2 separate regions of the Homo sapiens genome follow, and region 2 is linked to region 1. Evidence: fine-mapped expression QTL. A gene starts in region 1. The other region holds a variant in brackets. All regions are shown on one strand. Distances are between the middles of the regions. Region 1 holds the start of MED15 (mediator complex subunit 15). Region 2 overlaps KLHL22 (kelch like family member 22).

Region 1 (5,365 bases):
GTGGAACCTACTTGGACCTCTGACCTACAGAAACTACCAAATGATAAATGTGTGTTTTTTGTTTGTTTGTTTTTGAGATGGAGTCTCGCTCTGTCACTAGGCGGGATAGCAGTGGTGCGATCTCGGCTCACTGCAACCTCCGCCTCCCGGGTTCAAGCAATTCTCCTGCCTCAGACTCTTGAGTAGCTGGGACTACAGGTGTGCGCCATCACACCCAGCTAATTTTTGGATTTTTAGTAGAGATAGGGTTTCACCGTGTTGGCCAGGATGGGTCTCAGTCTCTTGACCTCGTGATCCGCCTGCCTCAGTCTCCCAAAGTGCTGGGATTACAGGCGTGAGCCACCACACCTGGCTAAAGGTGTGTTGTTTTAAGATGCTAAACTTGTGGTAATTTGTTAGAGCGGCAACAGAAAAACACACAAACAGCAATATCGAAAAAAATAAAGAACTCAATTCTCCCGGAAGCAAAATAAAGCTGAGTTATGAAGTATCCAGTCACTCAACACCCATAAACTCTTCAATCACCCTCCCAGCCCTCTTAACACTTCCCCTACCCCCATTTTCTTTGATGACAACTCACCCTTCCAGTTCTTAATTCTGGGCTTTCCCAGAGAAGAACCCTTGCCCTGGGGACTTTTCTTGCAGGAACCCTGAAGTGGGATATCTCTCAAGTTTTCACCTACAGATAACTATATTTTATCAGTAAAACACTGTTCACTGATTGTGCAATATCCCCAGAAATATCCCAAGGCTATTCTTCCCAAAGCCCATAGCTACTAACTCTACAGTCCCTACTCTTTCCACTGTACTGAAAGGTTTCCCAGCATTCAGCCCGGCTTCCTTCCTTCCACAATGCTTCACCCCACACCCCACCCCCCTCCATCCAGTTAGTCATCAAGAATTGTCTACGTTCCCCCTCCTCTGGAATCTGTCTTCCTCTTTCAGTTTCTACCACTGTCTAATGCAGGCCTTTATAATCTCCCGCCCGACTAGGTCATGCCACAATCATTTTACGGAGCAATGTGGCAGGCAGTGAGCTAGCAGTGAGAATATAAGGATGAAAAAGGACAGGTTCCCTACTCCCTCCAAATGTTCAAACTCTCTTAATAGCTTAACTGGTCTCTCTTCTCTGCCCTGCATCCATCTCCAGGGACAGGGACTCTAGGCATATTCCCAACACTGGCATTTCACTACTCCAAAGAATGCCACATGCCAAACACAGGCTCAATTCCTTGGCACAACACCCCCACTAAAGTGCTAGTACCTGCTCACCCTCATTCCATCATCTCCTGGGCTCTCTTACTCCTCGAGCCCCAGAACTCTCAGCCTACAAGATCCTCCCTCCACGCAGTAAATGCTCATGTTTCCTAACTCCTCAGCTTGGAATGGTGGCTATTCACACTCCTACTTGTCTTTCTAGGACTCAATTTATTCGTCACCTACTCACTAGACTGCCCCTGGTCTGCTCAAGTTAACCGCCGCTTCGCAAGAAACCCCTGCAGTATACACATTACAGACTGACAAGACTGCGCTGTGACGGTTCCTTTACCATCCCTCAGGAAAGGGGCTGTGTCTCAGGCAAATCTGTGGCGAGCACAACACGCCAATAAGCTCAGTTAAAAACTGTCAGGCCTCTGAGCCCAGGCCAGGCCATCGCATCCCCTGTGACTTGCACGTATACATCCAGATGGCCTGAAGTAACTGAAGATCCACAAAAGAAGTAAAAACAGCCGTAACTGATGACATTCCACCATTGTGATTTGTTCCTGCCCCACCCTAACTGATCAATGTACTTTGTAATCTCCCCCACCCTTAAGAAGGTTCTTTGTAATTCTCCCCACCCTTGAGAATGTACTTTGTGAGATCCATCCCTGCCCACCAGAGAACAATTGACTAATTTTCCATTACCTTCCCAAATCCTATAAAACGACCCCACCCCTATCTCCCTTCGCTGACTCTCTTTTCGGACTCAGCCCACCTGCACCCAGGTGAAATAAACAGCTTTATTGCTCACACAAAGCCTGTTTGGTGGTCTCTTCACACGGACGCGCATGAAAAAAACTGCTAACAGAAACAAGCAGTCGGTGGTGAGGGGCTAGAGTTCCTCTGAGCGGGGCCACTGACCCCAGCTCTTCACGCTCTCCTCCAGAAACGACGATCGCTTCCTGACAGCGGCTTCCTGCCATCCTTCGGCAAAGTCCACATTCCTTCGGGGGGTCACCCTCAGATCCTCCGTCCCACCGCCCACACCCCAAACAACTACCTTCCCAATCTCATCTTACATCCACCCTCCTCCCATCACTTTCTTTCACCGTTGATGCGCTTTTCTGGAAGAGAAACCATGAAGCACCCAGCCCTGCTAAACCCACTACAGCCGGCTGCTTCTCTCCCTTTCCCTATTCAGTGTGGTTCAAAAAGCGGGGGAAAGTCTGCACCCAAAGCACACAAATGACGAATGAGAAAGCTCAAGACGATGATTCATAAGCCAGGGCTCGTTGGTTTGCAGAGCTCGGCCCCAGGAAAGCAAACGAGCAGTCCATGTCGGGAACGGAGGGGACAGACGGGGGGGCCCGAGCCCTGGGACCCACGCAAGTCCCCGGCGCCTTCTGTCTCCCGGCGCCGTAGGTTTCTCACGGGTCCGGCCCTGGCCTCGCCCGCCACGCTAAGGAGGAAGGTCCCACAATCCAGCCCCCTGCCCCGACCACTACTCACATTTGACTGACCAGCTTCTGCCGGAAGGCGGTGCTCCGCCAGTCGGTCTCTTGCCCGGAAACGTCCATGCCTGTTCCCCAGCTCCCGCCGCCCGTATCCCGCTTGGCCGCCACCGCCGCCGCCTCAGTCACAGAGCCAGGCCCAAACCCGGAAGCCGTCCGCAGTGCCTCGGCCGAGCCGGAAGTGAAGGAGGGCTTGTGGGAAATGGAGTCTCGCGCACAGGCTTGTGGGAAATGAAGTTCCCCGCCGGGGACGAAGCGGTCTCGGTTCCGCCCGGCTGGGAGACACACGCCCCTCTTCCAGTGCAGCTGTCGGACACGGCAGGTGCTCCCGCAGCAGACCTGCGCCTGACCGCCTGCATTTTCTGCAACTCTTCAGTGTGCTGGCCTTATCTAGTCCCTGAGATCCAGACCCCTCCGGGATGCCAGGCCAAGCTGCCAGCTATCTATAGTAATGCTAGGGAGAGAGTGTTTATTTATCAAATATGTGTGGGTACCTACTGTGTGCCAGTGCAACGTGATCTGGGATCTGCTTTCATGCAACTGCCTGCTAGCGCCGCATCCGAAGAGCGACCAGATGGACTCTCATCACCGCTTCACTCTTCGATTTTTTGAATCTCACATCTCACAATGGCTGTATTTGGGGGTTGGGAATGTGAGGCCCCTAAACCACGTTAATTAATTTTTAGACATGGGCTTTCCCTTTTGACCAGCAGCCACGTCCCCTTCATGGAGAACTCAGCCTAGCTAGTTGCTGGAGGCCAGATGTCAAACGAATTTGATAGGTGAAGGTGAGCGAGCTGAAGGTGGGATGAGGGGTTATGGGGGCCTGAGAATGCTTTTAGGAATGTAAAAGTTCTGCCTCCTTGGAACTATGGGGCCTTTATCTGCTACCCTGGGGAGGGAGGTGACGTGAGGAAAATCTGGAGCCCAAGTGGTCAATAAGCACCAGGTGGACACCAACCAACATGGGCCTCAGGAGACTGTGGACTGGCACCTACTGAAGCCTAAGTGCCAGGCCCCTGCTAGGCACTGTACACCCCTTACACCCCTTGTTACTGTGCCCCAGACAGGAGGTTGAAGGTGGTAGAGAGTGGGTGGGAGAGGAGTGAGCACTCTCCCCAAAGAGGCCTCTCTTGCCAACAGAGTTTCATGTCTTGTGTTGATGTGAGAGCTGTTCATGTTTTCAAACGTTTTCTGCTCTAATACTCCCAAAATCGTTATTGTTTTTTTTGAGGGGGGGGGGATAGAATTTAGCCCTTGTTGGCCAGGCTGGAGTGCAGTGGTGCCATCTCGGCTCACTGCAACCTCTGTCTCCCGGGTTCACGCAATTCTCCCACCTCAGCTTCCCCAGTAGCTGGGATTACAAGCGTACCCCACCATGCCTGGCTAATTTTTGTATTTTTAGTAGAGACAGGGTTTCACCACGTTGGCCAGGCTGGTCTCGAACTCCTGACCTCAGGTGATCCACCTACCTCGGCCTCCCAAAGTGCTGGGATTACAGGCATGAGCCACCGTGCCCGGTGGCAAAACTAATTTTTTTTTTTTGAGATGGAGTCTCGCCCTGTTGCCCAGACTGGAGTGCTGTGGTGACATCTCGGCTCACTGCAACCTCTGCCTCCCGGGTTCAAGTGATTCTCCTGCCTCAGCCTCCCAAGTAGCTGGGATTACAGGTGCCTGCTACGAAGCCCAGCTAATTTTTTGTATCCTTAGTAGAGACAGGGTTTCACCATCTTGGCCAGGCTGAAAACTAATTTTTAAAAACTCTATCTAGAGTGATCATCTTGACCGGGGTTGCCCAGGACATCCAAGGTTTTAGTGTTTTTTTCCTTGTTTTATTTTGTTGTTGTTGTTTGTTTGTTTGTTTTTTGAGATGGAGTCTTGCTCTGTTGCCCAGGCTGGAGTGCAGTGGCACAATCTTGGCTCACTGCAAGCTCCGCCTCCCGGGTTCACGCCATTCTCCTGCCTCAGCCTCCCAAGTAGCTGGGACTACAGGCGCCCGCCACCACGCCCAGCTAATTTTTTTGTATTTTTAGTAGAGACAGGGTTTCACCGTGTTAGCCAGGATGGTCTCGATCTCCTGACCTCATGATCCGCCTGCCTCGGCCTCCCAAATTGCTGGGATTACAGGCGTGAGCCACCGCGCCCGGCCCTTGGTTTTTTTTTTTTTTTTTTTTTTTTTTTTTTTGAGACAGAGTCTCACTCTGTCGCCCAAGCTGGAGTGCAGTGGCGCAATCTCAGCTCACTGCATCCTCCGCCTCTCAGGTTCAAGTGATTCTCCTGCCTCAGCCTCCTGAGTAGCTGGGACTACAAGCACCTGGCACCACATCTGGCTAATTTTTGTATTTTTGGTGGAGACAGGGTTTCACCATGTTGGCCAGGATGTTCTCAATCTCCTGACCTGGCGATCCACCCGCCTTGGCCTCCCAAAGTGTTGGGATTACAGGCGTGAGCCACCACGCCCAGCCTTGTTTTCTTTTTTTTTGAGACAGAGTCTCGCTAGGTCTGCCAGGCTTGAGTGCAGTGGCGTGATCGCTTACTGCAGTCCCCGCCATCCGGGGTTCAAGTGATTCTCGTGCCTCAGCCTCCCCAGTAGCTGGGACTACAGTGCGCCACCACGCCCGACTCATTTTTGTATTTTATTTTATTTTATT
Region 2 (5,373 bases), 52 kb after region 1:
GTGCTCAGGTGTGTAACAGCCTGTGGGCCTGGCTGTAGATCGGTGTGCACTGGTATGTGGGGTAGTTGGGGAGGGTTCAGGCTGGGCTGAGGCAAAGCAGAAATGGGACCAGAACAAGAGGTGCAAGCCTGCGGAGCAGCCTCCCTGCCTAGTCAGTGCTGTGCTTTCCTCATGTCTCGGCACAGGTATGACCCACGGCACAACCGCTGGTTCCAGATCCAGTCCCTGCAGCAGGAGCACGCCGACCTGTCCGTGTGTGTTGTAGGCAGGTACATCTACGCTGTGGCGGGCCGTGACTACCACAATGACCTGAATGCTGTGGAGCGCTACGACCCTGCCACCAACTCCTGGGCATACGTGGCCCCACTCAAGAGGGAGGTAAGGAAGCCCTCGAAGAGGGGCCTTCTCCTGCCTAATTTCCTTCCCCAGGATGTGCAAAGAGTGAGAGGCCTAGGTGTCAAGGCCTGTCCCAGGTCAGAGAAACAGGCTCAGTGAGCAGAATCCATGCTTCTCCAGAGACCCTGCATTGAATGCATTGATGAGGCCCCATGAGGTTCAGCCAGTCCACCTGGGGAGGCTCATCAAGGATCCAGACCCCATTGCTCAGAATTGTGCCCCACTTGTGAGTCTTACATGCTGAGACCTTGTCACACCACCTTGGCCCTGGCAAGCTGCTTAAACCTTGTAGTTCAAATGTGGATAGAACATTTGCTCTTTGTGCAGCTGAGACGAGCTGGGACACTTCCAGAGATGTTAAACAGGAAGGGACCCTGAGAGCTCACTGGCCTATCCTCAGACCTCTTCCCTCTAGGTCCCCTGAAGGGTGGCGCCTTCCAGAGCCAAGAAACACTCTAAGGTTTTATTTTTTATATTAAATCCTATGTTTGAATATTGGGACAACTTGAAAAAAAAATCACGTGCATCCTATATAATACCTTGGTTTATTCCAATTTGAAGATGTTTAAAATTATGTTCATTATGGAAAAATGATGTTTTAGGGAGGTGCCTCTCTTTTATCTTACGACTTTGGGGTACTCAGGCCTGGTGTAACAACCAGACATGGGATCCCAGGGAAGGAACAGGCCTTGCTGGCCCCCTACTTCCTGGGTCTCAGCCTCCGAGAACAGGGCATACCCTAGCAGTACTAGGGGTACCCTAGCAGGGCACCCCGCTAGTACTGGCATAGCATTTGTGGAGCACCTGCTATGGGCCAGGTACACCTTTGGGGATAACCGAGCACCTGAGAGGCAGAGGATGGTATGGGGGGCAGGTTCTACCTGCACTGCCTCAGGGAGTTTAGCAAGAGCTCTGGCCTTTGTAAGCCTCTTTCCAGTATCTCTCATGACCCCCAATTCCCCCAGGGACTTAGACTTTGACTTCAGGGGTCAGGGCTAGTGTCTCCTCAATGGATCCAGCTCTTCTTTATCCAGGTCATTCACACAGCCCACACAGATTTCTGTCTCTTGGGCAGCTGTGAGCTGCAAGCTGTGGCCTGCTCCTTGCTCTCAGCTTCTTTGGGGAGAAGGAAGCCTCTTTGGAAGGACACTCCGTACCCCCATCCTGGGGAAAGGAGCAGATTTTGCATGGAGAAGATCAGGAGGTCCTTGAGACCAAGTGGACAAGGAGGGCTCTTGGGTTCTGTTCCAGGAAGGGTGTTGGGGGAAGCCTCCTAGGTGGGTGTTGTGGGAGGGGCTTAGCAGTTTCTTTGTCTGCGGCAGCTGGGGAAGCAGCAGTTCTCCAGCTTGGCCACAGAGGGGCAGCCTTGGCTTTCAACCAGCTGCATCGTGGCTGCCGGTGTTCCTTCATGCACGCATTCATTCCGCAACTACTAAGCACCATGTACCAAGTCCTGGGAATCCAGTGGTGACAAGAAATGAGAAAGACTCCCCACTCCATGGTGTTTACAGCCTTGTAGGAGAAACCACTCTTAACCAGAAAACAGATCAGTAAAGTGGTTACAATTATGGTAAGTGAAATGAAGAGGGGGCTGAACTGGAGGATTTCCAGGGAGGGGGCTCTGGTAGGATGAATCTAGAGGGACTTTTTGGGGAATGTCCATCTGAGGAGATGTCAATTAGACCTGCCATTTACAGAGGGAGGAAATGTTACTGGGAATGTGTCCTCGGTTCTTGTCTTCTTGGTTAAGACTTTAAGCAAGAGACATGCATTAACGAAGATAAGTGTAAGGCAGTTTATTGCAAAAGTGAAGGTACATTCTGAAGGCCGAGTCAGAGCAGGCTGCTCCAGAATAAGATCGCCCCAACTGGCATGGGAAACCTCCCTTACAGGAGGCTTACATGATTATTCATAAATGGGCGGGAAGAGGTGTTACTCATAAGCATGTTTTGTTTGGGTGGTCTTCTAGCAGCGCATGCACTGTGGCTCTACGTGCTAGTGTATTTATCGCATGTCTCATTAGCATCTTAAATCTTCACCCAGGAGGTGTGTTTTTTACCACTGCAGTGAACAAAAGGTTACTTTCGAAGCAAGCAAAACTGGGGCAAACTATACAACACAGGCTCCCGGGGGTGGAAAGTTCCTTGTGGGGTTAGTTCCTACTTGAGCTGGATAAGCTTAACTGAAAGAGGGGTTGGGACTTTTGAAACCCCAGGTGTGGTTAACATGTCTCAGAGGTCATAGTCCCTCTGGCCATGCTAGGGGCTGAGGCCAACCTGGAGTCCACTTCCCTGCTCATATCTAACCATCTGCCTAGTCTAGCAGAAGGACCTTCCAGGGCAGGAGAGGGGCTCACAGCTTTTCCTGAGCAGGAGAGGAAGCATGGGGCATGCTTGTAGAAGAAGGAAGCCCAAGGATCAAGAGCAGAGCAAGCGAGGCTGGCCCTGGGTCATTGCGTGGTCTGGGCTGAAGACAGCAGTAGCCTGTGCTGGCACACAGCTGTGGAGCTGGAGGGAGATGGGAGGGTTCAGAGTGTAGCGTGGAGGTAAACTGATCAGGCTTGCTGATGGATCAGATGTTGGGGAATGAAAAAGGATAGGTCATGTTGGCAGGGCGC[G/A]GTGGCTCACGTCTGTAATCCCAGCACTTTGGGAGGCCCAGGCGGGGGGGATCACCTGAGGTCAGGAGTTCAAGACCAGCCTGGCCAACATGGTAAAACCCCATCTCTACTAAAAATACAAAAATTAGCTGAGCATGGTGGCAGGCGCCTATAGTCCCAGCTACTCAGGAGGCTGAGGCAGGAGAATGGCGTGAACCCGGGAGGCAGAGGTTGTAGTGAGCTGAGATCACACCACTGCATTCCAGCCTGGGCAACAGAGCAAGACTCTGCCAAGACTCCGTCTCAAAACAAACAAACAAAAAACCTCACAGGATTGGTACACTGAATATTACAAAAAGCCGATGAAAGAAATAAAAGAAGATGTGAATAGATGGAGAGACATACCAAGTCCATGGATTGGAAGAGTAAGAATAGTAAGAATGTCAGTTCTTTCCCAACCCAATTAATAATACATATATTAATACAGAATTCCTCATATTGATATAGTATTAATACAGGAATACTAGTATTCCTATCAAAATTTCAGGAAGGTTTTTTGTACTATTAAGGGAAAATGAAAATTGAAGCTGAGGTTTGGATATACCCCTAGGCCAACTGCCTGTAGCCATGTAACTGAAACTTAAGCTTTCCTCCCTCAGTGTGATAGCTTTACAAAGAAAGCTTATGCAGCTCCACATGCACAGTAGGGAACAATATTCTTCCTCATTCATGCTTTATAAACTGTGTTGTAACTGCTGTGAATTGGGGCTTCATACCACTTCCAGTTTGGGGTTTCCTGGTTCATGAACTCTTCTTTTACATGCACAATAAGCTTTTTAAAAATTTTTTTATTTTTATTTTTTTTGAGACAGAGTCTCGCTCTGTCACCCAGGCTGGAGTGCAGTGGCATGACCCCGGCTCACTGCAACCTCTGCCTCCCTGGTTCAAGTGATCCTCCTGCCTCAGCCTCCCAAGTAGCTGGGATTACAGGTGAGCACCACCATGCCCAGCTAATATTTATATTTTTAGTATCATGAAGGTTTCACCATATTGCCCAGGCTGTTCTTGAACCCCTGGTCTCAAGGGATCTGTCTGCCTCGGCCAAAGTGCAGGGATTAGAGAAGTGAGCCATCACATCCAGCCTAAAATTTTTTTTTATTGCTGGTCGCAGTGGCTCACGTCTGTAATCCCAGCACTTTGGGAGGCCGAGGATGGTGTATCGCTTGAGGTCAGGAGTTCAAGACCAGCCTGGCCAACATGGTGAAACCCCATCTCTACTAAAAATACAAATATTAGCTGGGTGTGGTGGCACACACCTGTAATCCCAGCTACTGGGGAGGCTGAGGCACAAGAATGGATTGAACCCAGGAGGCAGAGGTTGCAATGAGCCGAGATTGCGCCACTGCACTCCAGCCTGGGCGACAGAGTGAGACTGTCTCAAAAAATAATAATAAAATAAATTTCAAAATAAATAAAATAAATTTTTTAATTTTGATTTGATTTTACTTGTGACATTAGATGTAAATGAGATTATTCTGAAATGTATATATAAAGGCAAAGGAACTAGAATAGCTCAAATAATTTTGAAAAAGAACGATAAGATGGGAGGAGTCTGCCCAATTTCAAGATTACTACATAGCTACAGTAATCAAGGCTGTGGTATGGATACAGTGATAGACACATAGATCAGTGAAACAGAATGGAAAACCCACAGACCTGAGTAAATATGCCCAGTCATGTTACACATGATTTTGGACAAAGGTGCAGAAACAATTGAGTGGAGGAAAGATATCTTTCAGCAAATAGTACTGGAGCAATTAGACATGCGTCGGCAAAAAAATGGATATCAACCCAAGTCTCATACCATATACCAAAATGAATTCAAAATGGTTTATGGAGTTAAATGTAAAACCATAAAACTTCTAGAAAAAAAGAAGAAGAAAATCTTTTTTTTTTGAGACCATTGATTTTTAATATTTTCTTAAAAAAATACAAAAGAAATTAACTCTGTAGTACAGGTCAGTACACTTCAGGGAAAGAGGGAAAAATGGAATTTCAGAGCAAAGGTTGTTTAGGTTATCACATTCCCACACTCCCAATACCCATAAAACAAGAATTTCACTCCATGACACAGAGGAACATTGAATGATAGCTCAGAAATGTTGATAGCTGAGGTACTGAAACTAACAAAAGGATTTTGGTTGTCCTTGATTATTCTGTCCTGTAATGAATAAAATCTACACTAAAGGACAGGTAAGGAAAACTTATAGCAGAAAAAAGACTAAATGTACCAATCACAGCAGTACAAACCACTCCTTGGCAGAAGTGTGCTTCTAAAAGAATGGGGCAGTAATCAGGTAGCTGAACTACTAGGCTACTGT

The links. PIP is the estimated chance that this variant, and not a neighbour inherited with it, causes the effect.
Region 2: its variant is fine-mapped to the expression of MED15 in whole blood (TOPMed, PIP 0.98).

Annotation. Positions count from the first base shown.
Region 1 is chr22:20,505,094-20,510,458 of GRCh38, reverse strand. MED15 (mediator complex subunit 15) reads right to left here and starts at 2,849. Exons shown (of 18, transcript NM_001003891.3): 1 at 2,713-2,849. The coding sequence starts at 2,780. RefSeq lists enhancers at 2,757-2,866, 4,746-5,245.
Region 2 is chr22:20,452,813-20,458,185 of GRCh38, reverse strand. It overlaps KLHL22 (kelch like family member 22), which reads left to right. Exons shown (of 7, transcript NM_032775.4): 5 at 186-378. It also overlaps the pseudogene KLHL12P1. Among named protein-coding and RNA genes, the nearest start is that of SCARF2, 18 kb to the right of the region's middle. RefSeq lists enhancers at 1,421-1,922, 2,671-2,840. The variant G/A (reference allele first, on the strand shown) is at 3,014.